Linked DNA regions of Homo sapiens: region 2 is reported to be linked to region 1. The links are microRNA targets in miRTarBase. Many come from high-throughput screens and were not tested one by one. Region 1 holds a microRNA gene; the other region holds the end of a gene's coding sequence.

The links. The annotated mature microRNA hsa-miR-30e-3p reads CUUUCAGUCGGAUGUUUACAGC and lies in region 1 at 1,491-1,512, shown strand. An mRNA with a match to its seed (bases 2 to 7 or 8) in the 3' UTR can be bound and repressed. Matches are read on the target gene's strand: a 7mer-m8 pairs with bases 2 to 8, a 7mer-A1 pairs with bases 2 to 7 and ends in A, and an 8mer does both.
Region 2: the mRNA of RIMOC1 is a reported target of hsa-miR-30e-3p. Seed matches in the 3' UTR shown: 7mer-m8 at 1,057-1,063.

What each region holds. Positions count from the first base shown.
Region 1 is chr1:40,752,923-40,756,005 of GRCh38, forward strand. MIR30E (microRNA 30e) reads left to right here and starts at 1,433; the gene lies at 1,433-1,524. NFYC (nuclear transcription factor Y subunit gamma) reads left to right here. Exons shown (of 10, transcript NM_014223.5): 5 at 229-324.
Region 2 is chr5:41,916,982-41,920,064 of GRCh38, forward strand. It overlaps RIMOC1 (RAB7A interacting MON1-CCZ1 complex subunit 1), which reads left to right. Exons shown (of 6, transcript NM_175921.6): 6 at 35-3,083. The coding sequence ends at 318. Among named protein-coding and RNA genes, the nearest start is that of FBXO4, 6.8 kb to the right of the region's middle. RefSeq lists an enhancer at 1,366-1,525.

The sequences.
Region 1 (3,083 bases):
CCATTTTACAGTGTGAGTTACATGTATCTCTTTCTTTTTTGTTGATGGTTGCCCACCAGGTCTGATCATTTAAAGTATATGAGTTTGGCTGTGCTTATTTCAGCTGTAGACTTGCCCGTAGGTGTTTAGTTTGGCTTAAAAGTCGTCTTACCTTACTTGGAGGGTATAAAGCCAAGTGAACTAGTTTCTCCCCAGGCTAATTTTTCACACCGCTCTTCTTTGTTACAGAGAAATGATATCGCCATGGCAATTACAAAATTTGATCAGTTTGATTTTCTCATCGATATTGTTCCAAGAGATGAACTGAAACCTCCAAAGCGTCAGGTGAGCTGTGAAGGGATTGCAGTTGCTGCTGACTGAAGAGCGCTTTGTATACTGGTGTCAGATACGCTCCTTCTCTCTCAGCACAAGTCATTTGCTATTCCTTTTGCTTCTCGTTTCTAGACCAGATTCATTCTTAACATCTCCTTCTGTTACTCATTTCTGGATACTTTTAACTCAGTGCCTCCGAAGTGGTATTTCAGTGAAAATAGACAAAATGAAAATGAAAGACTTTAGTTACAAATGGTAAAGTTAAGCTCATTTCAAGTTATCTTAGGAAGTCTATCAGAGCTCTTCATCTGGGATAGGAGAATATTCCCAGAAAGTTATAGATTTTAGATTTTTAAGAAACAGCTTCTCTATGTGCACAGTGGCATTTGGAGTGAATGGACTATGTTTTCTCTTCCTCTATATTGTGGTTCATTATATCTTTATATAGTACCCTGACTGCACACTAGAATCACCTGTTGGGGTTTTAAAAATATCAGCGCCCAGGCTCTAACCCACATCAGCTGAATCAGAATCTCATGATGGAGCCCAGGCATCAGTACCTTTTAAAACTCCCTGGATGCTTTTAATGTGCAGTCAGATTTGAGAACCACCACTTGAGCTGTTTTGCAAGCAATCACAAGAAAGAATATGAACGTCTGCCTTCCCGTCTCTTCTGCCTGCCCCTCTCCAAAGGTCACACTAGTTGTTTTTTCAGCACCTTGGGTGCATATAGCTCTTAATTGTGATTGTAATAGACCTCTGTCCTTTAGAGCTCATTGTTTTAAGCATGCAGATTGCATGATTCACTAGGTGCCACTTGGGAAATTGTGGCAGAATCTCACAGGAGCAAAGCTGTGCCTTGTTCTGCTTGCTTTGTTATATAAAACTTTATTTTTAATGAATTATTTCATAGTATATTATCCTTAGAAGCAGTCATTCAGTGACAGCCATTCTCCCCATCCCAGCCTGTATTAATAACCAGTCAGAGAAAGTCTAGGAGAAGTGGGCATCCTAATGAACATTTGTAATTCTGACCCTGCATGAGGGCCTTTGGATTAGCAAGCCCTCTGTCACCTCCTTACTAGAGTAGGGTGTGCCTCACTGCGTCTCCGTTCTTTCTGGGCAGTCTTTGCTACTGTAAACATCCTTGACTGGAAGCTGTAAGGTGTTCAGAGGAGCTTTCAGTCGGATGTTTACAGCGGCAGGCTGCCACGGTCGTCCCCAGCTACGCACCGGCTTTGAAACATTGCAGGTTTGTGCCCACAGGCTCAATTCCTCCTCTTGGGGGTCCTTCCCTCCTCTCTCAGAAGTCACAACAAGAACTCAGGCCATTTATCTTCCTTCAGAACAAAGAGTATCATACACCTGCTTTCCTTGTTGAAATTGTTTTCTCCTTTTGTCTATCAGAAGCCCCCTTTAAAACAAGATTGTGAGCTCTGTGATGAAATCAGGCCTTGCTCACTCTCATTGTGCTAACTCCTTGTTTTCTGTGGGCTGCCTGCTGAATACACTGGCTGGAGAGAAGGGTCACATCCTGTCAGTTCCTCCAAATTCCTCAGTGCTTCTGGGTCTCTCGGGGTGTCATACAGCTCCTTATTCCATCTTAGCCAGACTCAAAATGCTATGATCCATCTGATTTTAAAGTGTGTCTAGCTGAAACAGCTTCTTGTTGCTTGGATTTAGTTCTTTGTAGGTGTTCGAGGCATTGATTGGCATCGTATTCGGGACAGCTGCTGCCTGGCCTTTGAAAGGTTGAGATTGCTGAAAGCTGGCCTGAAATTCTAAGATAGCATTTTTAATCCTCTGTAGACATGAAGTTTTCCCAGGCTTCAAATTGGCTGGCACCTCCTAAAGTCCTTTAAAACGCCTACTCTCCAAAACCCACCCTTTCTGAAGGAGGCAGCAGTTCACTCTTGCTACTAAAGCGAATGTACTTTTTTCCAGTCAGGGCTGGTTGCACAACACTGTAGAGATGGCCCTAGGATGTGATGCTGCTCTTCTCTGGCACTGTTCGTCAGTCTCAGCTTCTGGAAAGATTCCAAGAGCAAGCCCTGTAGTTGGGGAGGCCACTGCTAAAGTTGAGCAAGTGCCCCATTCTGGATTGATCCAGTCATTAAAGCATTGTTCTGCCACTTGGGGCAACCTCCCACTGCTGGGAAAAGGAACTAGTCAGAAATACTGAATTGTGAGTCCAAGGCCCTGACTTCTCAAAGATACTTGAGAGTTTCGCTTGTTCTTCAGAGAAGCAAGTAAAGATTATTTGAAGGTAGGAGGTAGTTGAGGCCTGACTTCTGCCCCACTAAAGCTATTGAGTTGAAAGTTCCTGCCCATTGAAATGTCATTATCTTTTCACCCATTTCTTTAAACCAAGCATAATCATTTCCTTGCTGGCTTGACCTCCATTGGCAGAATGAGTCTTCATAATGCAGAAGAGCCTTAGATATGCCTTCTTCCATTCCAGTGATTTGAGAACAGTTGTGCCTTGTCCTAACAACACAAACCTAGGTGCCTCCACTTGATTCTCAGTGTCCTAGATACTGTCTAGTTCATAAACAGTTTAAGAGGATGTAGTAAGCAGCATAGGAGGAGCTCTTGTCCTGCTCTCACAGCTTTTGGCAAGAGATATTTTGGGTTCTGGAAGGGGTTTTTAAAGGGTTTGCTTTTTGTCTGACAAAAAGATCATATTCAATACTAGATCAGCTGTAGTTGGGGATAACTGGAGACTAAACAATCACAGGTCACGGCTAGAAAATGCAGGTGTCTCCCTGCTG
Region 2 (3,083 bases), not on the chromosome of region 1:
AATTCTAATCTGTCAACCTAAATGACTTTCCCAGGAATATTTAGTGACATTCATCTGCTGGCTATGATGTACAGTGGAGAAATGTGTTACTGGGGATCGAAGTATTGTGCTGATCAGCAACCAGAAAATCATGAAGTGGATACTAGTGTGTCTGGAGCGGGCTGCACTACATACAAGGAACCCTTGGATTTCCGAGAAGTAGGAGAAAAAATCTTGAAAAAGTATGTATCTGTGTGTGAAGGACCCCTGAAAGAACAAGAATGGAATACAACGAATGCAAAACAAATTTTAAACTTCTTTCATCATCGCTGTAACTAGTAAGTTCATCTAGTCCTTTTCAAATAGAAAAACAACAAAACCCATGAAATGGAAAAGAGAGTTCCAAAAAAGAAGACCTGTTGATACTGAATATGAGAACATTACACTGCATAAAGATATCCAGCTTGGGTACCCTACTAAAACAACATCACCATCTTTTTCATTATATATTAGTAAACCTATGAAGGGATGATTCTTTAATTTCTAAAGTGTTGTTCAAACTCACCTTAAAATACAGATGTTATGTCACTAATAATGAGTAGTAACCCAATTTAGCTTTACAAAGATTTTTTCTATTACTTTTTTTTTTTATTGTGGTATATGTAACACAAGTTTACCATTTTTATCATCTTTAGATTATTTTTAAATCTCACTACCTTGAAGTTTGCCATGCTTCAGAAATTAAAGTCAAGTTACTTCACTGCTTTGAATACATACTATGGATATAAATGTAGGCAAAATGAAAGATTATGACTAATATTCAGATTCCATTTTCAATAAGGTAAATAATGAAAGATCTCACAAAGGAATCATTGTGTTTAATTATTTTGCCATGTATTACTAATTGTATTTAAAATTTCTACTTCCCTTAGGCATTTTATAAAAATTTAAAAATTATTTTTCTATTTTGTTTAAAAGACAATGCATGGCTTTTCAAGTGAGTAATGAAGATAAAAACCAAGCTAGGTTAGTCTACCATTAGTTCATATGTTTTTGTAGCACATCTTTTCATAACATACTGAAATTTTAATGTTTTTTGCCTTTAATAATAGGGGTGAGTGTTAAAGGCCAGAGAGCCTAACTTGATATCTTGCTCATGGTCTTTCTGTCTACCTCAACTCCTGTTGTCATCTTTGGATGATCTTTCTGATACCTTGCTGATACCTTGGACTTCTGCCCAGTGACTTTATTACATTCCAGCAGCTTACTCCCGTGGCCGCACTTTGAATGTCACCACCTTGAGTTTCTCTTTCTGGTAAAATTTCAGTAACTGATAACTGCCCTCTTTTCAGTTTTTTCACTTCCTTATTTTATTGACTTTTCTCTCCTTTATGCTCATTCCACATTCTTCAGTTCCTTCTTACCCCCTTTTCTTGACTGCTCCCCTTCCTCCTAAACTGTCAGCCCCTTTCAGGCTTTCTTCCCTATCCACCCTCAGCTTTATGGGATACTATATGAACTAATCTCACCAGTTATTCTTCTTTCCCTGGTCTTTTAGTCTAGTCCTTTGGCAAGCCCTCAACCTCAGATTAATCCTATTTATTATCTACCTTTTCGGGGATGCTGAGTTCTTTGTGATGGGTAGTCCTTCAAAGTAGAATCACTACAAGTGTCTCACTTCAGCCTTAGAAAAGCCCTCAATGTAAACCTTATGTTTGTTACTAGGGTGGCCTCTCTCCCATTTCCCGCTGTGGCTGAGCCAAACTTCATTACTTTCCTTAGGCCCTCTGCCCCTCCCCTAGCATATGGCTCTTTCTCCTATTGAACAGAAAATTGAGACTATGAAGAGGTCAACTTGTATTTACCAACTTTACTCATTTTCCCATTTTAGAGGAAAAGAGGTTGCCTGCTTCCTATCAAAGGCGACTCTGTGCTACATGTTGGTTTCATCTTCGCTGTCTCTCTCATTTCCCCACAAAGTGTTGTCTCACTTTCTGCCTACCTTTTAGGTATTGATCTTCACTATATTTTTTTCTCTCTCTCTCTTTTTTTTTTTTACTTTACATATTTTATACAATGTCATTCATAACTATGGCTTCTTTTACCACCTGTAATAACAGACTGAGTCTCAAACCTGTAACTTGTATCCTGACTTATCTCTTGCTTTCTAAACCTTGTTTCTAACTGTCTATCAAATATCTTCATTAGACATCCCACAGTAATTTTAAGCTCAGTGTTTCCAAACGTCAAGTCCTCATCTGTTATATAAAATCCTTTCTGCTTTGTAAGTTTTCTCTTTTTGGGATTTTCCGCAGATCAGGGCAACACAGAATGACTACCTTCCCAGCCATGTCTCTGCAGTCATCCTGTGTAATCATGTTCTAGTCCAGTGTTGCTCAAACAGTTAAAATCCAGGCTGCTTTTGGTAAACATACAAATTCTGATATAGAGCCTCTGTGGCAAAGGGAATTTCTCAGTTCCTGCCCCAGCCCCCTTGTTTATCATTACACAGCTAAGATTTTTATTTAACTTAGCATTTTAGCAAGTTTTCTTATGAAAATACCTTTGTGCTTTCTAAGTATAAAGATTTAAATTATTTTTAATACGGTTTTTAGAACCACAGACTATCCCTCTTTTTAGAGCATCCTGATCAATTGCAAGTACTTCCACTTCTTCCCTAAATGCGCTTTGTGTGTTTTCCACCTCAGTAGCCTTGCACACATCATTACTTCTGCATCCTTCTTTGTGACCAAGTGAATACCTACCTACCTCTTAGGACTCAGCTTCAGTGATTCTGTTTTCATAGGCTTTTTAAAGCCCTTTTCAGTCAAATTAGATGCTCCTTTGTTCTGGTCCTTTACTCTTCCCCTCCCATGTTGTCGCACTGATCACACTGCTTTGTAATTATTTTCTTTATTGTTGGTAAACTCCATATTTTAAAAATTTACCTGTATACATAGTGCTTAATGCATGGTAGGCCCTTAGTAATGTTTTTGAATTAATGAGGCATGATTCTAAATGCCAAACTTTGCACAAAAAGTTGTTGCTATTGGATTCCAAACTGCTATGCCCTCTATACCAGTGGCTGACAAGGCATATAGGGA